Regions from separate parts of the Homo sapiens genome. Here region 1 is linked to region 2. Evidence: fine-mapped expression QTL. A gene starts in region 2. The other region holds a variant in brackets. All regions are shown on one strand. Distances are between the middles of the regions.

The links. PIP is the estimated chance that this variant, and not a neighbour inherited with it, causes the effect.
Region 1: its variant is fine-mapped to the expression of MYO16 in testis (GTEx, PIP above 0.99).

Annotation. Positions count from the first base shown.
Region 1 is chr13:108,881,762-108,889,761 of GRCh38, forward strand. It overlaps MYO16 (myosin XVI), which reads left to right. Exons shown (of 35, transcript NM_001198950.3): 13 at 1,298-1,425; 14 at 6,611-6,716. Among named protein-coding and RNA genes, the nearest start is that of MYO16-AS2, 220 kb to the right of the region's middle. The variant C/T (reference allele first, on the strand shown) is at 4,905.
Region 2 is chr13:108,618,345-108,634,601 of GRCh38, forward strand. MYO16 (myosin XVI) reads left to right here and starts at 11,267. Exons shown (of 35, transcript NM_001198950.3): 1 at 11,267-11,528. The coding sequence starts at 11,501. RefSeq lists an enhancer at 1-276.

The DNA.
Region 1 (8,000 bases), 260 kb after region 2:
AATGAACAAAGCCTCCAAGAAATATGGGACTATGTGAAAAGACCAAATCTATGTCTGACTGGTGTACCTGAAAGTGACGAGGAGAATGGAACCAAGTTGGAAAACACTGTTCAGGATATTATCCAGGAGAACTTCCCCAACATAGCGAGTCAGGCCAACATTCAAATTCTGGAAATACAAAGAATGCCACAAAGATACTCCTTGAGAAGAGCAACTCCAAGACACATAATTGTCAGATTCACCAAAGTTGAAATGAAGGAAAAACTGTAAAGGGCAGCCAGAGAGAAAGGTCAGTTTGCCCACAAAGAGAAGCCCATCAGACTAATAGCAGATCCCTGAGCATCAAGCATTTTAAAATACTTTTCTGGCATGTGGTCCCATCAACCTTAAATATGTTTACTGTGTATTTAAACAAAGGTATTCTCCTGTGTAACCTCCCTACAGTCATCAAAATGGGAAAATTATTACTGATGCACTGGTGTCACTGAATCAAGAGACCTCGTTCAGGATTTCCCATTGTCTCAGTAATGCCCATAGAGCTAGAGATTCAGGCCAGCGCTGCACGTTGCATTTTGAACCACCATGCCCTTGACTCTCCTTCAGTATGGACCAGTTCTGCAGTCTTCTTTTGACTTTTCTGACCTTGACATCTTTGAAGATACAGGCCAGTTATTTTGTACAATAAAAATAACTTTGATTTCTTCACAACTAAGAAGTCTTCCTACTCTTGAGTTTTTATTCTAAAGTAATAAAATTTACTAGAAATTTAAAAGGACTAAAACTACTGGAAATGAATCATTATGGCAATAATTATAAATCACCGTTTCTCTAAAATTAATTAATTTTTGTTTTTCTGAGAAATTTGTAAACTTATATGCATTTCAGCTGCAACTGCCTCTCACATTCAAGTTTAAAACCTTGGCTATCTTATGGTATTGAAATTAAATACTGCTGAGAGAAATTGTATTTGTTGTAAATTACCACAGTTTCAGCTTACTGCACAGATATCTATTAAAGAACATATTTTGTGAGTTGCTCTTCTTAAAGACAGCAGAATAATTAAAGCCTGTGGACCAAGTAATGAAGGATAAAGTATAAGCCTCCATTTTGTCATTATGCATGCTGAAAATGTGCTGAGAAGGGTGTAATTTTACAAATGTTTTTACATACCAATGAGATTCAGAATTAGGGATTCATTCACTTCTGTATCTTGGACAGAAGTCACTCTCATTATGGGATGAGGAATACTGGCGCCTTTTCACTGAGGTTTTCCCCTTGCTGCTGCCCTGTTTTCCAGGTGTCCCAGCTGTATTTCAGCTCCTCAGGGAAGCTGTGTTCCTCGCTGCCTCCTCACCTCTTCTCCTGTGTGGAGAGAGCCTTTCACCAGCTCTTCCGGGAACAGCGGCCTCAGTGTTTCATCCTCAGGTGAGTCCTCCTCAACCTTGTCTGCCAGGCTCAGGTTTGCCACGGGGCTTGGCAGTAAAGATGTACTCATTTCCTATGGTTTACCTTTATTTACTTTCTCAGCACCTTGAGGTCCAGTATATCTTTGCAATAAGTACATTTGACTCGTTACAAAGGAGAAACATCTTGGCTGTTAGGAGTAGCCCCAAGTGTAGCTGGATCAATATTAATAAACTTAACCTGAAACTCATTTCCTTTTGAAGATTTAAAGCTTAGATAAAAAGTTTTTGCTTTTGAACCTAAGAAAACATGGAGAAAGAAAAACTACCAATATTACGGAACCTAAGCCACTGTTCTTCAAAATCCAGGGCTGCCCCAAATATCATTTTATTTCTTTCCAAAGGTATGTTTTCTCAGCCTGTTTCTTGTTATTTACCTTTGCTCACAATTCACTGTACTCTACTTCCTAAACTTTTTTTTTTTTTTTGAGACAGGGTCTTGCTCTGTCACCCAGGCTGGAATTTAGTGGCATGATCACCAGTCACTGCAGCCAAGGCTCAAGTGATCCTCCCACCTCAGCCTCCCAAGTAGCTGGGACTACAGGCACATGCCACCACACTTGGCTAATTTTTTAATTTTTGTAGAGATGAGATCTCACTATATTGCCCAGGCTGGTCTCAAACTCCTGGGCTCAAGCGATCCTCTTGTCACAGCCTCTCAAAGTGCTGGGATTACAGACATGGGCCACTGCATTTGGCCCAGAATATTTTTTGAATTTGAAATGTAATGCTAGATTTAACTCACCAATTAATAGAAAATTAAAGAAACATTTAAATGTTAAAATCTGCATCAGAGACCTATATTTTATATTCAGCCAAACCTCTACAAGGGAGGGAAAGCTCTATAAATACTCACTCACGGTAGCGCCTTAGTTGTTGTCAGTAGTGCTGGTTGGAACTCAACGGATAAGTACAGTAGCACACAACTCGAGTCAAAGTGAAATGAAAATGGTATAAAGTTAGAACCTGGATAGAATTCAAAAGGCTTATTTAAATATTAAAATGAGAGCTTATATGTTTATATGCATTTCATCAAAAATTCTATGGAGGGTGGAGGGACAGACTGATGGGCGCACACTTTAGTTTTCTAGTTTTCAAAGCAGCATGCTAGCGGTTGTTTTCGTGCTGGGTTCAGATGCATCCCAAGGATGAGGAAGGTGCTGAGGCAGGGGCTTCGACACATTCTAAACTCTAGGATAAGAAAGGCACTGAGGCATGGGATTCCACCCATTCTAGACTCAAAAATGAGAAAGGCGCTGAGGCAGGGAATTCCACCCATTGTAGACTCAAGGATGAGAAAAGCACTGAGGCAGGGGCTTCTGCCCATTCTAGGCTCAAGGATGAGAAAGACGCCGAGACAGGGGCTCTCACCCATTCTAGACACAAGGATGAGAAGGGCGTCAAGGTGGGGGCTCCAACCCATTCTAGACACAAGGATGAGAAAGGCACCGAGGCAGGGGCTTCCACCCATTCTAAACTCAATGATGAGAAAGGCTCTGAGACACGGGCTCTCACCCATTCTAGACACAAGGATGAGAAAGGCACTGAGGCGGGGGCTCCAACCCATTCTAAACTCAAGGATGAGAAAGGCGCTGAGACAGGGGCTCTCACCCATTCTAGACATGAGGATGAGAAAGGCTCTGAGACAGGGGCTCTCATCCATTCTAGACACAAGGATGAGAAAGGCACTGAGACAGGGGCTCTCACCCATTCTAGACACGAGGGTGATAAAGATGCTGAGACAGGGGCTCTCATCCATTCTAAACTCAAAGGAAGAGAAAGACGCTGAGACGGGCTCTCACCAATTCTAGACACGAGGATGAGAAAGGCACTGAGGTGGGGGCTCCAACCCATTCTAGACTCAAGGATGAGAAAGGCACCAAGGCAGGGGCTTCCACCCATTCTTTCTTTTGATACGGAGTTTCGTTCTTGTTGCCCAGGCTGGAGTGCAATGGCACAATCTCAGCTCACCGCTACCTCTGCCTCCTGGGTTCAAGTGATTCTCCTGCTTCAGCCTCCTGAGTAGCTGGAATTACAGGCATGTGCCACCACGCCCGGCTAATTTTGTATTTTTAGTAGAGTCGGGGGTGTCACCACGTTGGTCAGGCTGGTCTCGAACTCCTGAGCTCAGGTGATCCACCTGCCTCGGCCTGCCAAAGTGCTGGGATTACAGGTGTGAGCTACTGTACCTGGCCACTCATTCTGGACTCAAGGATGAGAAAGGCGCAGAGATGGGGGCTTCCACCCGTTCTAGACTCAGGCAACCCTATTTTTATCTGCTTTGTCTGTCCAGTTTCCTGGTCTTCCTTTGATAAATAGGGAAAACTTTTTAAAAGTTGCTTAGAAAAAACACTGTCAATTGGTGAGACAGGGAGAGTTTAACACTGTTGACAATAACAACTAATGTTTATTGAGAATTTACTGGCTGCCAGACCCTTGACTAGATTATTTCTATGTATTATTTATTTCTTTAGAATTTACATAACTTTTGAGTGCTCCCACTTAATTCTAGGATGATCATTGCAGCTGTTATAGGTCAGTTTTTGAAAGCGTGGGTCCTGAGCAAGGCTCTAAGGGGAGAAAAGGAGGAGCAGCAGGCCCATGCGCTTTGGGAGTCCGCCCGGGAGATGGCACACAGCGGCCAGCAAGTTTTCTTATGAAGAACCCCGTTTATCTTAGTTTAACCCAACAGTTTTGACAGGTATTTGCTCATGGAACTTTTTATCCAGTATATATTCTGCAGAACTAGTTTTGCTTTGGGTCTTTTTTTTTTTGATATGGAGTCTTGAGTCTCGCTCTGTCGCCCAGGCTGGAGTGCAGTGGCGCGATCTGGGCTCACTGCAAGCTCCGCCTCCCGGGTTGACGTCATTCTCCTGCCTCAGCCTCCCGAATAGCTGGGACTACAGGCGCCCGCCATCACGCCCGGCTAATTTTTTGTATTTTTAGTAGAGACGAGGTTTCACCGTGTTAGCCAGGATGGTCTCGATCTCCTGACCTTGTGATCCGCCCACCACAGCCTCTCAAAGTGCTGGGATTACAGGCGTGAGCCACCGCGCCCGGCCCTCCTTTGGGTCATTTTTTAAAGTTAATGATTCCCTGTACCAACCCCTTATTTTGAAAAAATACCTCTTCATTCAAGTTTCAAGAAGGTGTTGATGCAGGATTTTGCTCCTTAGCTCGGCTACGTCCAGGTTCTTGCCTCACGACCTGGAAAAATGAGGCGTGCGGACACGAGAGAGTAAGTGGAGTAGAATTTATTATGCGAAAGGGAAGCTCTCAGCAGAGAGGGGTCCTGAAGCAGGGTGCCTGGTGCCCCCTTCTCAGTTGAATACCACCAGAGCTTAGGGCGCAAACTGCTGGCGGCTCCACCCCCCGTCCTTCCAGTGCGCATGCTGAGGCCGAGCTGCTCCATATTGATTGATTTCCCTTGCTGCACGTGTG[C/T]TAAGGAACGGACTCTTCCACCGCAGGCTTGTTTAGGCAAAGCCCCCTGTGCAAGTTCCCTTATCGGCACAAAACATCTGACGTAAGCACTCGTGGGGCGGGTCGGAGCTTCTCGGGGGACCCTTCCCTGACTGTCTGCCTGAAGCAAGCTGGAGAACTCCTTTCGGTATCGCTAGTCCTGATATACAGAATGGAAGAGCAAATCTCTGGTTACTAGGACTTACTGTTTTAGTGATTCTCTTTCTTCTTTCAAAATTGTGTGTGCTTTCATACAGCTTTGCCACATCCTTGATTGTGTGGGCTAAGATACATGCTTTCTCCATTTTTACGAATATGATAAAATTAGCCATTTGAAATTCAACTTAATAAGTTGTTAACGGATCATTATTGAGTGTCAGTTGTGTCCCAGAACGAGCACTTACAAAGGGTAATTTAAGATTTAGCAATCAAAACGCAAGTAGTCCTGGAATGGATGTCCCAAAACTCAGTACCAGACCAGAAAAAATTTCATTTTGTTTTCTAATATTAACTTAATACCTCATTTGTTGATACTCTTAGGCCCCAGTAGTTCAAAAGTCTGCACAAGTGAGTGGAAGCATCCATTAACGACTCGACACTTTAAACAAATAATTAAATTTCAACTTACTTCTTTTCTGGCAAACACTGTTAATTAACTTTGTTAAAATAGATGTTTCCAGGCAGAAAACCAAGGAAGCTCTCCTAAAAGGGCTTTAAAAAGTTTTTCTGGTTACCAAATAAGTAAAGGCTGTTTTTATGAATTTTTCATCTGGATGAAGTAATAACTTTATTGTAGATCACATCACTTTGAAATAATAATTATTTTGTGGGAATTTTATGTCAATCCTATATCATATAGTGTCAGGAATATAATATTTACCATTTTTAAAAATTGGGTGAGTTAATGAAGTATGCCTGGGATGTATTAAAAGTGATGCCCTTATAAATAAAAGTTCAGTGATCTTTCCTAGATTAAAGAAAAATGCAAACTAGAGAACATCAGAACTGAAAGCAAGCGGAAAAGGAAACCTAAGCAGGTCAGGTTTAGTAGGATCTGCGGAATGACAGATCCACATCTGAAGACCTTACTGCCTTAGTTTTTGTAGCTAGGCACTTTATGTTCATTTCAAAGAACAGAGAAGGAATGCTCAGAAAGATGTCACAGCTTTTCCACAGAAGAGGTAACGTCTCTCCTGTAAGGCCCATGAAGCATGAACAGTTTTCCCAAGGCCATGTGTGAGCCTGCATGTCTCAACACAGCATGCTGTCTCGGGATCGCCTCACTTTATGTTGACTTGCTAAGCTGAGTCAAGTTGGTTATGTCTTCTTCTCAGCCTGACACCTTTCTGGCATAATTCACCTACACTAGGTGGTTCTACCCTGTGAGATACTGAATGGCAGAACTTGTGTCATATTCATTTGTAATGCCAGCATCTGAAACACCATCAGGGACATGACACAGTCAACATATACTGGGTATTTCAGACAAATGAATCAAATTGAAGTGTGAACGGAGACCACAAACTCATTGCAAGTAGATGTGCCATTCCCTCCTCATTTCTGTGTCTGAGAAATATCTCCAGTTAATTTTTTTACTTGTTCCTTCAAAGTAGTTTCAAAGGAACAAAGGAACAAGCTTTGAAGCAAAGTTCCTTCAAACTTATGTTTTTCCTCTCTGTTTTCCTTAGTGGAGAAAGGGGATCAGGAAAGTCTGAAGCCAGCAAACAAATCATAAGACACCTCACCTGCAGGGCTGGCGCCAGCAGGGCCACACTGGATTCCAGATTCAAACATGTAAGTTTTTTGTTTGGGTTGGCAAATATGTGAATGAAGATGTTCAGCCAGTTGTCATTTACAAATAGGGGAGGGGACATCATAATAGATACAAGGGGGTTCAAAATTTGTGGAAATAAAGAATAAAAAATTATTGAGCTTGGGTTCAAATAAATACTGTTCGAGTGAACATTTATTTATTTTACATATTTAAAATATTTTGTACATACTTTCTTTTTGTATTTGCTCCGAATAGTTGGATCTAAAACACGTAATATAGGTAGATGTTGTTGTTCACAAAGAAAGTGCACTTTGAGGCTGAGCGCAGGGGCTCACGACTATAATCCCAGCACTCTGGGAGGCCGAGGCATGTGAATCACCTGAGGTCAGGAGTTCGAGATCGGCCTGGCCAACATTGTGAAACCTCGTCTCTACTAAAAATACAAAAATTAGCCAGGAGTGGTGGCTGGTGCCTGTAATCCCAGCTACTCAGGAGGCTGAGGCAGGAGAATTGCTTGAAGCCGGGAGGCAGAGGTTGCGGTGAGCTGAGATCATGCTGTTGCATTCCAGCTGGACAAGAGCAAAACTCTGTCTCAAAAAAAAAAAGAAAAGAAAAAGAAAGTGCACTTTGGTGTGTTAGGACATTTTGGGGAGCTGGCCAGAAAAGAAATTATTGTGAGGGATCACTGGGGCCTGATAATAAATCTTTGGTGTATCTGAAAGAATTGGCAATAGTTATCCTTAAAGACTTCGATGGGCAGGCCATGCACCTTTGGGGCCAAAACAGATTTTAAACTATTTGGAAACATTTGCAGTGTTAACTGTCCCGCTAATTCATCATTCTAAAATATGACCGTGATTCAAGGAGGAAGCAAAAAGACCTGTTAGCAGCTAAGATAAAGCTAAAAACATCCCACATAATCAAACTCAGAAATTTTACTCAAGGAGGCCACCACAGGTGCTTATCCATAGACTGATTCTGTTGTTTATACATAGTTCTAGCAAGTTTTGTTAAAAGGTTTGTTCAGACCATAGCAGATCAGAAGAAGACATTGAAAGGCCACTGGAAGGAATGGCTAACAGTGGGGGGAACAGACAGGACAGGAACCAATAACCAATCCAAAAGAATGGAAATCAACAGTCTGCTCTCTAGGGGCCTCTACCTAGAGATGGAACCCTCTCCATTTCTATATTTCTTTTGGAAATCACTCCAGATGCCTGGAAGTTCATGATGATTTTCCTAAGGTTGAAATAAAATATTATTTTAGAGGATACTCCACCCTTGCTTATGCTGATGATCATGAC
Region 2 (16,257 bases):
GGAGAAAAGACTTCCCAGCAGGAGACACCTCCTGCAAGGCATTGTGCATTAAGACTGTGGTGGCAGTGGCTGTCCTAGAACATTTGCATTGCAGATGAGAAGCTGCTAGAGTTGAGCCTGTAGAGACAGACAGGAGCACCTCACAGAGGACATTGTATATGGTATGAAGGAGCCATTGCCTGGGCCAGCCACCACCTCTTCCATGCCTCCATCTTGCTTTGTCTAAGCTTACGTTTGCATTTTCCACACTGTGTTATAGTGGCTGATTTGCTGTGCTGGGAAATCACTTTAAGGGCAGTGACTGCCCCTTATTTGTATCCATATGCAAAAGTACAGTAGCCTGTCAGTCAATAGTTGTTGAATGAGTGAATGTAGAATGAACCAATGCTTCTGAGTTACCTTAGTTTTACACCCTTAGAAATCCTTTTCTCACTGTGTCTGTTGCTGCTATGTTAGGAACTCTGTCACTATTTACAACACTTAAACAATAGATTATAATTTGCATGCAGTAAAACACATATATACTACATGTACAATTCAACCAATCTTAATGTATCTCTCTATATTTATACGTGTGCAACCACCACGAGATCAAAATATGAAACATTTCCATTTGTTCTAGAAAGTTCCCTAGAGCCCTTTTCCTATCAATAGCCCATTTGCCTGATTTCTATTATCATAATTTTTTCCTGTTTTTGGATTTTATGTAAATAAACAGAGTCATAAATTTGACACTCTCAAAATATCCCCCATCAGATTCATGTAAGACTTTTATTTTGGTGATACTTCTCCACAACCATCGCACTACAACTTACCTTAATCCACTCAACTAACACTTACATATTTGGCTTTAGAGATGTATATCAATATCTTCTGTGGTCTGGAGATAATTCTTATCATATTAGCACCTTAGATGTAATTGCCAGTATTCATGATATGTTAAAAAATTATTAAATGTCTACTAAATTTGCTACAGCTTAGCTACTTCACGAGACTCTAAAATTCGGTTCCCTGCTATACTCTTAAATTTCAAATATAAACATATATACCTCTTCCCTTGATAAAATCTTACTTCCGATCTGTATCTTTTCTTGACACTTTCCTTCTCTTGACACTTTTGGTTGACTGGGTCTGTATGTTGAAATGTCTGCCTTGATAGATACTCGAGGGTGTAAAAGTAAACATCAATGTAGCAGCATCATGTCAGCATTTTGAGAGAAAGCCCACGCAGGATGTAAATTAGCAGTAATAGGATGTAGCATCAGGAGGTATCACAGCGATACATCAGTGCAGCTAACCTGGCCAAGAAGAAAGGGGAAGGGACTGATCGGGAGGCAGTTTGCCCGCTGTGACCCTTGAACACTTATTTTCTACTCATTTTACACAACCCCTTCCCTTCTCCACCTTCTCCTCTCCAGATGTCTCTCCTATGTGTGTCCTCCCCTCTCCCTCTCTCTCCCTATATACACAACACCAACATGTAGGGTTGAAGTTCATCAGGCAAGGGACGATGCGCGGTGAGGAAGGTAGAAAAAATGTGACAGACAGAAGAAAGGCCTGTGCTAGGAGTTGAAGGCAAATGGCATACTGGAAACCTAAGCCTAAACCACCTAGCAGGAGGGGTATTGCCCCATGATGAAAGGTATGGTGGACTCTGTAGCCTGAATGACTTGGTCAACAGAGTCATGCTCCTTTATGGCTGAATGATCTTGGACATCTTGCTTAGTCTTTGTGCCTCAATTTCCTCATCTGTTAAAAAAGTATTAGTACCCACTACATTGTTCTGATTCTTAAATGAATCGATGCCTATGAAGATATTAGAATAATGCTTACCACATAATAAGCACTTTTTAATTGTTTGCTATATAAGTTGAAGCCTTAAAAAATGGAGGTCATTTCCTAGAAATATTCACTTAGAAGCTTATTTATAACTTTCTTACTTTTTGAATAATAAATCTGAATATTTATTCTGGAAATGCTAAAGGGAATAACACTAACGTATTTATTTTTTGACTACCTGAGTTTTAGGGCTGCTCTGATGTTTGATGTTGAAGCCACACTGAAGAAGAGAGGAAGCAGGGATGAACCGTACTAAGAGCATGCATTCATGTTACTGTTTTCAGGCATCCCAGACTCATTCTCTTGATGCAAAGTCTGTGGGTGGAACTTCTGGATTTTGGGCTTCTAGGGATGAGAGGTTTCCAGTATTGGCAACATTAGATAAATTAAGGAAATATTTCATTGGGTCAGATCAAGTCCGCCTTTATGAGGAAACTGTGGAAAGAAGGAAGCAGAGATAGGGATGGAGATTTCAAGACAGGAAGAGGAGGACTCACCTTTTGGTCGATGATGGGATGTGCTGTCCACTTCCCACTTGTCACTGCCTCTGCTCTGTCCCCAGTTCCTCGCCCTTGGGGGCCTTGAGTGGCCTCCACTTCCCAAACACACTATCCTCTTTATTTCTCCTGCTCCAATAATTTCCTATGATATTTATGCATTTCAGATCTAAACATCCCACTCCTCTGCATTAAAAGCTTCCTTGTCTCTATATGACTCATGAGAAGGAACAGAGCCTCCCATCCCCACCCCGCAGCCTGGCCTCTACTTACCTCTCTAACTCACCCCTCAGCTGGCTGTGCCAGGTACTATCCTTTAGCCTTGCCAAACATTTCTGTTTATTTCTTGAACATGTCATGAAGATACCACACACCTCTCTTCTGCCCACCTGCTTTGCCTAATCTCTTCCTACTCATCCTCTGGTGTGTGCTAGGCACCACATCTTCAGAAACACACTGCAAACCCTCAAGCTTCGGGTGCCTGCTCCATAATGCCATGCATTTTCTAGTGTAGTCTCTGTAATTCTGTTTCCCAGTGTATAATCTTTGTAAGCTCCACAGGGTAGGGTCTAGGTCTGATTCATGACTGTTGCATGTTGAGTGCTCAACAAAGACTTCCAGGGCTGATAGAATTCTATGGTAGTCCCCCCACTTATTTGCCGTTTTGCTCTCTGCAGTTTCAGTTAACCACCGCCAACTGCAGTCTGAAATATTAAATGGAAATATCTAGAAATTTCCATTTAATATTTGTATTCTATTTCTAGAAATTCATTAATTTTAAATTGCATGCTGTTCCATGCATGGAGTAACATGATGAAGTCTCATGCCATCCAGCTTCATTTCTTTCTGGACATGAATCATCCTTTTGTCCATTGTATAAGCACTACATGCTTCCTGCTCGTTAATCATCCACGTCGTCTACTCCTGACATCCAGTCATCGACATTGTCGTGGCTCAGTGATCCTGGGCCATCTGAAGCAGATGATCCTCTCTTGGCTGCGGTGTTAGGTCAATAGTAGCCTGCTCCATACCAATGCCTACGTCATTCCCCTCACATCAGGCATCAGTAGGCATTTTATCATCTCACATCATCACAAGAAGAAGAGTGAGTACAGTACAGTAAGATATTGTGAGAGAGAGACAATGAGAGACAGCACATTCACCTAACTTTTATTATAGTATTTTGCTATAATTGTCCTGTTTTATCATTGTTGCTCTTAATCTCTAAATTAGACTGTGCCTAATTTATAAACTAAACTTTATCATAGGAATAGTATAGAAATGTATAGAAAAAAAAACAGTGTATATAGGGCTCCATATTATCTGTGGTTTCAGGCATCCACTGGGGATCTTGGAAAGTGTCCCCCACAGATTGGGAGGATACTGTATAAAGTTTACTTGTTTAGTACCTGGTTCATGGGTAAACATGGCATAATTACTGTGAAGGGGTTTCTACTAGTCATTGATACCTGCAAGACTCTAGGAAAGGCAGTGATGTCTTCAAGGCAAATCACATAATAAATATTTTCATGAATATAAAGATAGCATTAGATCAATACAACATCAGGGGTGTGTGAAATAGTCACATCGTGATGGTTGGAATTGTACTTGTTGAGCACCTAGCTTGTACAGAAGAACCCTGGGCGCTTGGCATTACAGCTGCCATTTCTTATCACAGGAATTTGAACCTCAACCAGGTGACCTGACCTTTAGGGAGTGACAGATACAGGATTCATATCCAAGGAAGTTTACTGAAATAGAAGTAAGGAGGGACAACCCACTAGAGGAGCCTTGGTCAGGGAAAGGATGTCCCAGTCTTCTACGGTTTCATTAGCCTCATGCACTGTGGCCAGAATTTATCTGTGTCTGTTGCTTTACTCTGAGAAGTCCTTCCAGTTATTTATGGGAGTGTGAAGTATGGAGAGAGAGACAGGGAGAGGAGGAAGAGAAAAGGAGGAGGGGGGAAGGCAGATGTTGGTGGGGGATGGAAAAGAGAGGGATGGTGGGGGATGGACGAGAGGAAGAGGAGGTAAGAGGAGAGGCCAAAATAGGCTAAGAGAGATTCTGATGGGAAACATGAAGTCGTGGATCATGAATCAGAGACATGGATCAGAGCACGGACCACACTCACAGAGCATCCTGGCACTGGTTTCCAAAGCCCCACTATTCAAAAAGCAATGGACGGAAAGCCTGATATCATCCTGCAAGGGCAGTGGAATTGTAACACAGGAGAGGAACCAAAGAGTTCAAGGACTCTAAGCTTTTATAAGCTGCACATATGCCCATTTGAGAGAAAGAGTGAGAGAGAGAAAAGGAAACAAATTTTCTCTTGGAGAAGAAAAGAGAAAGTCTCCAGGCTTATCACCCTGAAATATAAGCCCATGGGCCTGGGAGGTAATTCTCCAAATTGCTTCAGAGCTACACACACGACGTCCAGCTTCCAAGGTATGCTTTTATGTAATCACCATTTAACCAAGGCTGCCAATGCTCTTTCCTCTGACAGCCCAAACTGTGCAGATAGGAGAAAATATTTATGGAGAACAATATCGTAACAATGAGGGCTACTTAAACTTATCCAAAAGGCCTGAGACTTCAGTTTGGAGAAATAATTTAATGTCATTTGTGAATTTGGATATTTCAGTGTACATTCTTTTTCTAGAACACCTTAAAATATTGTTAAATTTTGGGAACCTCTCTAGTGACTATATTGTATCCATTGTCACTCAAAGAAAATTAGCAACAAGGGAATTCATTTAGAAGAAGAAAGTCAAACTTGCAGCCAGATCTCCCTATGATCCGTTTTAATGGCGCCTTCATGGGGGATATTGAAAAACAATATACACTCAGTCTACTTGTACCTACATGCTTGAATGAAGAAGGGGCTATACTCCACTTCATTTCTTTCTTCTTCTCCTGTCATGTATGGTAAGTTATGTTTACTTAAGTGTTCAATAATCCTGCCTTTAATAAAATATTCCTCAAGACATTATATGTCATGCACCAGAAAATGCTTTAGAGCAATTCTAATTCTCTGGCTCTCCCTTTGTTGATCTCTGAATGTTCACTAATGTTTTGGACTTCATAGGAAATAGGAAAAGTAGAAGGTCTGAGACTCAAATAACGAGTTACCTACCTAGGAAGAGCCTTCCCTATGATAACTAGTTAAGAAAAATGCAAAGCATTGCATTATAAATGCTGGATTGACTGGTACATGAAAAAAATGAATATAAGCTTTAGAGAAGGTCAGGAATAATTTAAGCAATAAAAAAATCAAGAACAGTTTGTAGATTAAATGGGCTTGAAGTAAATTTGAAGAATGCATGGAATTTGAATAGGTAACTTAGTGTGATTAAATTGTAAATAAGAGCATGATTCAACTAAAGAGGCATATTTTGTTTAAAAAATCCATGTATATCAATGGGAAAAGTATGAAGGAGAGGCTTCTTATTTAATTGCCTCACAATTCCTTTCATCCTTTTTGGGAAAATTAAGAATATCTTTTAGATCATCAAAAAACTTTCAGATATTGTCTTCTAAATGACAAATGTATAGAGATCTGTTCAAACATTTCAGCCTGGTGTCCCAGCTGTCTTATTTAGGCCAACAGTAATCGCTAAACTTGCTTCGTCATCAATAAATTTTTTTTTATCTGCCTATTCCTGGTAACTGGTTGCAGTATACTATTTATTCCCTCAAACTGATTGAAGAACAAGGCAAAGAATACTTAATTATTCATGTGCTCATATTCATCCATATCACACATGTGCACATAAACCTAGGTAGAGTCATACAGACATAAAACAAAACGGTCTGTTTCTTATTCACCATTAAGATATGCAAACTTTTGTCCAAGGTCAAACACCTGAAATGGAAAAGTCTTCCTAGATAGTTGTAACGCATATGCTGGAAAGATTTCAAAGTGGTTGTTCGGATTCAAGTGAAAAACCTTACAAATGCTTTACAAATGTCCTGCTTTAGATACCCAGTTTAACTGGTCCTCACTAGAATTTAAAACATTTCATTTTGATTAGGGAAAAAAATCACCAAAGGAAGTGGGTGGCCAAATGCCCTTAAGGAGCAATTAGAACATCCCATATAGCCTGAGTGTGTGTGTGTGTGTGTGTGTGTGTGTGTGTGTGTGTGTGTATCTTCATATATCCATATCAATGCACATGCATGTATTTGCTATTATATTAATCTATATTGTATTACAGAGAGTAATTTTCAGTCTTTTTGAAGCAGTTTTTAAAATTGCATTTCTTTTCTACATCAGTACTCTATGAAAGTATTTGAATAACCAGGGATATTTTCTAGCCGTTATATGACAAATTCACTTTTAGTCACTAAAGCAGGGCTCAGCTGGGTTAGCCCTCACTGCCCTCTGACATGGAGAGGGCAGTTCCTATTAACCCCTACTTCTTTCCAACTGTGCAAGTCTGTATTGTAAATTTCTTCTCATTTACTTCACAATTGCCCACATCTAACTTGAATGTCCGTTTGTTCTGGTTGGAGAAATGTGAGACTACGTGAAGCTGAAGTGAACACACAGCCCTGTGGAGTCCTGAATCCGAGAGCTAGTGGTTTCACAGGCAGGCCAAAATCAGGAACAACCTCCACAGTCACTAGACTGAGATCAGGGACTTTATGAGAGAGTCAAGGATGTTCAGTCATTCAAGGTAGGCTTGATCCTGGTCCTGAGGCACCAGGGGTTGACCAGAGGCTGATTCTATAGCAAGAGCTGAGTGTATTTATGCCTTATTTTTTGACAACTCAGATATTTTCTCCTCTGTAGGCTTCAGCCTCAAAGGACCCTAAGTTATTAGACCGGAGTTATGTTCCCAGGAGAGGTCTTGACTCCATTCACCCAGAAGCAGTCAATATTTGTGATAGAGGAAATTATAAATTTAGCTGTCAGCCATTGTGTGTGAGACACCTGTGGCTCAAGGTCTCTAAATGTGTGTAATTTACTTCATCAAAGGCTAATATTTATAAGCCCCAACCTATTCACAGGGCAGAGGCAATGATGCCCCATCACAGAGCTTAAATTTGCATAACAAAAAACTGTTGTGTGTGATTTATATCTTCATTTAGAATTTTTGTCATGACCTACTGTTAATACGTACCTTTCCCAAATTGGTGATGTTTGCAAACTTTAGTTTTAATTTCTTCATTTAATAAAGCATGTCAATGCAGGCACTATTAGATTAGGAATTATCTGTCAGCAGACTGGCATTATGAAACTACATGTTTTACATTGTCCAAATAGGTTTTAAATGAAAACATTAAGTAGTATCTCACCTGGGGCCTTTTTGGAGCTGTGTCTCATGTATCCCATTTTAAAAGATATTTACTAAGCAATTTCTAACTTTTGAATGCTTATCTCTCATTAGAATCATTGCAGTTTCTTTTTTTGTTTTTGGCTGGGAAATAATTTAGCCTTATTTGAAAAAATCTGGTGTATAATAATGCTAACATTTAAGAGAAAAAAAATCATGTGTTCATATCAGAAATAGTGTGAATAATGAGCAGCTGTATGGTGTATAAAAGAGAAAAAGGGGTTTCTTGATTATTCAAAAATGAGTTTGAAATATTATGCATTCGTATTTGGAAAGAACAATAGTTCATTGTAATAATACTGAAAAATAATAAAATAATTGTGCTTTATGCGTTTGAAAATTTTCTGGAAATGCAAAACAATACCCTCTTTCGAACGCATGGATTTAATTTTGTACTTAATGACCATATTCTGCAAAATAGATAAATTGCTAACCATATATTTAATTTAGCCTTGGTCATTTCTTGCTACTGTCATCAACTCTGATACCATATTTAAAATATAAGATTTAGCCGGGCATGGTGGCTCATGCCTGTAATCCCAGCACTTTGGGAAGCCAAGGCAGGTGGCTCACCTGAGGTCAAGCCTGACCAGCCTGACTAACATGGTGAAATCTCATGTCTACTAAAACTACAAAAATTAGCTGGGCATGGTAGTGGGTGCCTGTAATTCCAGCTACTTGGGAGGCTGAAACAGGAGAATTGCTTGAAACCGGGAGGCAGAGGGTTGCAGTGAGCCAAGATCGCGCCATTGCACTGCAGCCTGGGTGACAGAGAGAAACTCCATCTCAAAAGAGAAAATAAAAGAAAAGAAAAATATATATGTGTGTGTATATATATATATGTATATTATACATGTATATATGTATATTTTATGTATATATGTATATTATATATATTATATATAGCTATATATAATATATATAAAAATATATATTGTATATAATATATATATTATATATTATATATATATATGATTGAAGGAGTCCTGAAATTATTGTTCTGACCACCCAACAGTGAGTTGAGTTTCTCAGGGATGGATATAGAGGAGGAAATTTTAATCAACTTCAAGTTACCATTTTTAAAAAATTTTATGAAGGAAGTAAAGTTAATGGAACCAAAATTATTTTCCTCAGTATTAATGCCTGCATTAGAAATTAATTTTTGTTTTGTAGTGATGAAATATGTAAATAGGTTTAAACATAGTTCTACCAATGTTTAGAGCATGAGTATGTGGTTTCAAAGACAAAAAGATAAAAGGGCTTCTTAATCTGGGGAAATTATATGTAGATACAGTTTATACATAGAAAGCACATTCTAAGTAGTTTAAGAAATCTGTGAATACATTTCTCAGTGTATCCTCCTTCAACTCCTCAAAGTGGATTAGATGTTGGCTCTTGTTGTTTTAGAGGTCTACATTTGTAGTCTTACAGTTTCTAGCACACAACACTGTGCTATCTTGATTGTCTCTATTTCATCTGACGATAAGCACTTTGAGGTCAGGGAGTCAAGTTTCTCTTATAGCACAAAGAGTTGCCAAATGTTTATGGAATACATGAGTCGATGAAAAATAAACACATTTGATAATGAGCCCCTGGAGATGAGATGTTAATTCTCACGGGGTACCTTGGTTAAAGTTCTTATAAGAAATGCCTTAAGTTATTGAAAAAAGTAGGGCTCAAATCAATTATATTTTTAATAACATATTTTCTTTGTCAAGTGCACAACATGCCCCTCTGAGTGTTATGCTTTTTTTCAGTTTAAAGAGTGAATGGTATCATTAAACTCAATTGTCTTAAGATGTTTGCTGAGTTTGTATACATGCAGAGGCATGCAATTTGCAGAAAATTAAGACATTCAGACATTTAAGGAAGGTATATAGGCAACATACTATTTATCCGGCATTGTATTAAGAGAAGGGGGTAGGGACATCTACATGGATACAACCTTACCCGAAGATACATTAGATAACATTCACATAAATTCACAGTTATTTTATGCACATGTAAAGATTTGTATTGATTTAAAGAGGAGAGAGCTTTACTTCCCGTGTTGGAAACAGATATAGTTGTGTCTTACAGTTTTATTGAAACATTACAAAACATCCAAGAAACCCTTTAAAAATACATTATAGATTCCTGGTATATAAAGGCTCTGTTTTAGACATATTTTATTCCTGAAAAGCACCCAAAATGGTGACTTTTGTGACAGTGACTCTCAATAATTAATTGTGGAATCAACGAATAAATGAGGAATCAGCATTCCTGATGAAGGCTGCAAATCCTCATTCTAATTTTTGGAAAAGCCAAGTTAAAGCGTCCATAATCATCATTTGGTACATACATAAGTTTTTTTCCTTGTTAATGTTAATGACAACTTTTCAATGAACACCAACAACAGAAACCAGAAATTTTATGTGCATTATTTCTAACCTTCAGAATAAAGATTAGGAATTATATTTCACATGCATAGATGAGGAAACTGAGGCTTTAGCAGGTTAAATAATGTGTTTACATTGATACTCTGGTAAGTGGTAGAAGCTGGATTTGACATCAGGCTGTTCTGTGCGAAATCTTCAACTTATTATTTTACATCACGCTACTAAAATGTGTTAGAATATTATTCAGTGAAAATGTAATAGTCATGACCCCTTGTTGTATAGATTTGAATTTCATAATCTTCTAGTTTAATAAAAGCACTGCTCTTTGAGTTTTGTTCAGTAAGGAATACAAAATTATGTTACTGCCACAGAAGGATGGGTGCACTTAACATATTGTTCATGTTTACCTTTCCTATAACCTCAAACCTGAAACATAAATTCTAGACTATGTCAACTTGTCTTTGGAGAAGATCATCATAAAAATGTATCAATTTGCAAAAAAAATGTATCACTTTGAATTTGTAAACAACTTAAAATATAACCTTTTGGTTTGCTACCATGGCTATTTCATTATGAGTATGATATTCACTTTTATAACAATAAACCCTAGCAGACCATATATTTCTTTCTGATTCCAATTCAGTCAGATTTACTTCATCCAGTTGGGTTGTACAGTTAAATTCATTGCAGTCTGCAGAGGTAGGAGAATCCTAAATTTTAAAGCTATGCAAACCAAAAGCTTTTTGTGGATAATTTAAGTTTTACATTCTGCTCAGAAAAGCAGAAAGATGTGTTTTGAAATATAATGCAAGTTTTTCATTACTAAGGACAGATCAAAGATCTCTGATTCTAAGAGGTGGCTATTTTAAGCTCCTGCTATCAATTTCCTATTCACACACAGCAACTGGTGGCAACTAAAAATAATCCGCTTTACTACCAGCTAAGAATCTGGTCATATGTGGCTGATGGACAGTGTGCACGAAGAAGATTTAGGATCCTTCTATCCGTGGCTTCTCTCCAGCCCACTCATCAGCTTAGTTTGCTGCCATTTGAAAGCTATTGAAAAGCCATTAACAGGCAGGACCGGGAGAGCCGCACTGCAGCACACCTCCGTGCAGCAGAATGTGGCTGCATGTGAACACCAATTAGAGCTGACTATTCCCGGGATTGTGGTACTCGGGGCTGTGTCAATCAAGGGTGCTACAATAGCACGTGCACCAGTGGTGCCTCAAGACCCACCGGGGAGAGGCTTATCTTAACTCCAGCTGCCGAATGAGAATGAGTTTGAAGCTTTTTGCAGGATCATGGAACAGAGCCTCCATGCAATAGTGCATCCTGAGGTAAACTGTTACCTGAGTAAGGGCTTTAAGTAATGCATTTCCTGGGAACGACAGTTGTGACAGAAGAGAATGCTGGAACCCGTAGCAAGATTCCTGTCTGAGATGGAAAGATGTCTCACTATCATTTTATCAAGTGCTGTAAGTAAGCTTGATATCTTGCTCATGTGGTTATTTGTCTTGTTGAAGTATTATTTTGTGCAGATGCCAAAATTAAGGCAGTTCTCCTGGTATACCACATTCAGATGAGTGACATAGACTGGTGACTTAGAAGAATATTTTACAGGCTGGATATATTTCCTTTTAATTTTAGATTGTGAAATAATTCCAGTGTGATCCAAATGCTAATAGCACAGAGATCTTTAAAACTTCAGCTTTTTAAAAAAAATGATTCATAGACACAGCAACCAGAAAAAAAAAAAAACACCAGAAACACATGGAAAGAAATTACAAAAGCATATTTTTGCTCATTGGCACATGTTAATAAAGTACATAAAAACTAAGTTTATTAATATATGGCTGAGGTCATTTAGCTAGTATTTTAGTCTCAAGTTTTACTGCTTAAGCCTCTATTCAATGCTTTTTGTAAGTGTGATCTTTAGGGTTATCCTTGACTGTAAACTTTTGTCCTTGTATCATTCACCTTGCGGTGCTTAGGGACTCCAGGGACTCTGTACCAAATGCTCTCCACTGATGTTCATATGGTGAAATTTAGTTTGTCACCAGGTTCTCTTTTGGGCTTATCAAGGGTTTCTTTAGCGTCTGAAATTTTGGCAGAATTTTCTGAGCTAGAGAATACTTCCATCTAAACCAATTCTGGATGGTAATAATGAAGAGGAAGACATATTTATCCAAAAATGGCTTGCTGGATATACATTTTTGTCCCCTGCAGCACTTCTGAAAACTTCTGTACATATATATCATGATCTTAAAGTGACAGATGACATTTGCAGAAAATGGTTTTCTTTTAAGCTTAAGGTTTTGCTGCCAAAGGACATCACAATGTTAAATTGAAGCAGCATATTAAGGGAACACATGTGTTGAATGAATCTTGAGCTTTGCACTAAAGGAGACTAAAAAAATAATGATGATTGAGAAGGTGAAAATATTTACCTTTCTCTTATTTTTGGTAGAGAATGTATACAGGAATTAAAACTATGATTAATGGAAATAAAAATGCCTTACTCTTAAGCATTGCCAAGAATGTCATGCTTTCATGTTGCAGAACAATTTCAATTCCCAAAAGGATTCACTGGTCATCTCGTAAGTTTGCAGATTAGCTCTTTAACTAATAAGAATTAGAGGCATGCAGCGTATTTAAGAATTTTGAGAATAGTCTTCTGCTTTAATCTGTTAACTCTTGGGGTTATTTTCTTGGAGAAATAGACACAGGGCAATACTCTGACTGGTTTTTGTATTGCCTCTCGTGTTTTACTGCACTAGCAGAATGTCATTATTTTCCTTGCTGTGCCTCTGCAGAGGAAAAACTCTGCATCTTTCCTACAAGGAACCTGGATGCTCATTAGACACATTGAACACACCTGGTGGAGGGCAGCCATGGAGCATGGGTGGAAGCACAAAGGGACAGTGACATGGACGTGAGAGATTCAGGGAGCAGTTGGTCACCAAACACAATATGAGTCTGCCCTTTCCTGCCTTTTGTTCTGTTTTAGTTGAATTATTTGATTGTAGAATTTCGGAAAATTGTAGACATTTCAGAAAATTGGTGATGTCAATTGGAGCCTGTGAGATATTTCTTTTAGCATGCTAGTATAAGAGATGAAATCTAAAATTAATGAATTTAAACATTCCTGATGCATTTCTGAAAGTAATTAGCAACTACTTACTAAAGATCTGACTGCTTTCTAAGCTTTGAGTGTGACAGTCTATAAAATGGAAAGGAAGCATGAATATTATGAAATGCTAACTTTACTGGAGAAATGGTGCGATGTGTTAAGGAGTTCAGAAATTATACTGCATTCTGTGCTGAACTAGTGAAGGGTGTTTTATGAAAAAAATGCATCTTGAGCTATATCTTGGAAGGATGAACAAAATATAGAAGAAGGCCGGGCGTGATGGCTCACGCTTGTAATCCCAGAACATTGGGAGGCCAAAGCAGGCGGATCACCTGAGGTCAGGAGTTTAAGACCAGTCTGGCCAACATAGTGAAACCCTGTCTCTACTAAAAATACAAAATTTTGCTGGGTGTGGTGGTGGGAGCCTGTAATCCCAGCTACTTGGGAGGTTGAGGCAGGAGAATTGCTTGAACCCGGGAGGCGGAGCTTGCGGTGAGCTGAGATCGCGCCATTGCACTCCAGCCTGGGTGACAAGAGCAAAACCCCAACTCAAAAAAAAAAAAAAAAAAAAAGAGTGAATGCCCTCATGGTATCCTAAGGGTTTATTGATAAGGATCATAATTCATGGTTTAATGGTTGTTCCTGATGCGTAAGATTTTCCCAAATTGTTGTCTCCCATATTGGGCTGATCTGCTGGCGAGGTTCATCGGCCTTCGTCACACTCCATTCCTTCTTCGCCTGTCCTGCATTTCTACCACATATCTGTCTTTCATTCTGAGCCAGATTTATCACCATAGCACGTTCACTTTCAAGCCAGACAGCAATGCAGGAAGTGGATGAATTCCAGGGCAGGAGCAGGACCTTCTGAAATGTGCAACATTAGCATCCCATGTGCTCCTAGTGAATCACAGGAAGCCTTCAGGTGGGATGCTGGGTGACCAATAGCTAATGCTCGCAAGGAACTGTTAGTCACCTGGGAAAATACTCATCATCTAAGGTGAAAAAATTATACGCTTCAAGGTCGAAACTTAATCTAACAGTTGTTATCTCCAGTTTATGATAATATCTGTTACTTTGTAAAACATTTTTACTTTATTTTAGAGAAGGGTTAAAAACTAGAGTGTAAAAATTTACTGTGGAAGCAGGATATAGCAGGAAAGTGTAGGAACACCACAGCAAAAAGTGTGGCCATTTCATGTATCTTGGTAGCTGAGAAGTAGCTTTAGACAGATCTGCAGTGAGAGCCAGTCTCAGAGCCCCATGCCTGTTGAGAGGTAACACATGAACATGACCAGGCCCCAGCTGAGGCGCAAGCAGAAATGAGAAATGGAACTCAAGGGAGTCATGGGCTCACAGAACTTTAAGGCCATGTGAGACTTGAAACTACTTTTGTTTTAATGAACTGAAGCGGAGGCTTGAGGTCTACCTGTGGAGTTCCCTTCACGTGCCTCTGGGGGTGAAGCATTGCAATAACTACACCTGACCTATTTCTCTCCTGGTTCAGCTCTTCTCTAAGCATACGGGTTTGGGGCAGCATTGTTTGCAGCAGGAGGAAGGTTAAAGTTATTTAAAATGAATATTCTCCAGAGCTGAGAATTCATTTACAACACCTAAGAACGAATTGTATCAGAAAATCTGTTACTTTATATGTTGTATTAGTCAGGGCTTTCTTGAGGGGCAGAACTAATAAGATAGATGTATATATAAAGGGGAGTTTATTAAGGAGAATTAACTCACACAATCACAAGGTGAGGTCCCACAATAGGCCATCTGCAAGCTAAGGAGCAAGGAAGCCAGTCAGAGTCCCAAAATATCAAAAGTAGGAAAGCTGACAGTGCAGCCTTTAGTCTGTGGTCAAAGGTCCAAGAGTCCAAAAGCGGAAGAACTTGGAGTCTGATGTTCAAGGGCAGGAAGCATCCAGCATGAGAGAAAGATGTAGGCTGGAAGACTCAGCCAGCCTGGTTCTTCCATGTTCCTCTGCCTGCTTTTATCCTAGCTGCACTGGCAGCTGATCAGATGGTGTCCATCCAGATCGAGGGTGGGTCTGCCTCTCCCAGTCCACTGACTTGAATGTTAATCTCCTTTGACATCACCCTTGCAGACACACCCAGGAACAATACTTTGCATCCTTCAATCCAACCAAGTTGACACTGAGTATTAATGATCACACATATTAAACATGTTTTATGATACCAAGGTTAAAACCCATTTTTTTCCTCAAGCCACTCATGCTGATGAACACCACCTCCAGTAAAATGCTTTCCTCACTTTTCTAGCTATCGCACACACTGTTCGCTCATTCAAGAACTTTCACTGCAGTGTTTCTGCAATGCACTAACACACCCAGAAGCTGCTCCCTCCATGTCCTCACTCTCCCATATCCTGCTCTCCGCCTGGTCCAGCGCCCATAGTCCATTGCTGAAGCCACTTCACTCCTTGCCCTCACCTCCCTCTGTTCCACTCGAGTGACGAATACCTACCCAAGGTGGAACCCCCCTTTCCAGCATGTCTGTCCTTGCCCCAGAGGAGCTGGATGACCCTTGAAGGAGGACATCAGAGCAAAAGCAGACTGATTTCATTTAACATCATGATCAAACATCTCACCCAGGCAGGCAGCACTCTCCTGTACCCTCGTCTTGTTTCTACGGTAGGCACGACTGCTCATGCCTAGAGACCCCTTCTTCTAACTCCAATCTCCCAGGCTGAGGAGTTACAAACCTACCCTCCCACCATTAAATCTGCAGAGTGTCTGCGCATGTATTCCTCTTTGCCCACTTCTCACCTGCAGTCCTGAATTTCCTCCTGTGTGTCCAAGGCCAGTGCGCTTGCAATTCTGTCTCCTTCTGCCTCCTGCAAGCTTGCATTTCCCTTCAGCTCTCCCCTTTCTCTCCTGCATCAGCTTCCAACAGAGTGAATATGTGGCCAATCCATCCATCTTCCAATTAAGCAAAAGTCCCCCCTTGTTCTCTCTTCCCTCGGGCCACCACCCCATTTCCTTGTTTGCAGGTCATACCTTGAAACGATTGCCCATGCCCGTGGCCTTCGACCCTCACCTCCTTGTCTCCTCTTCCATG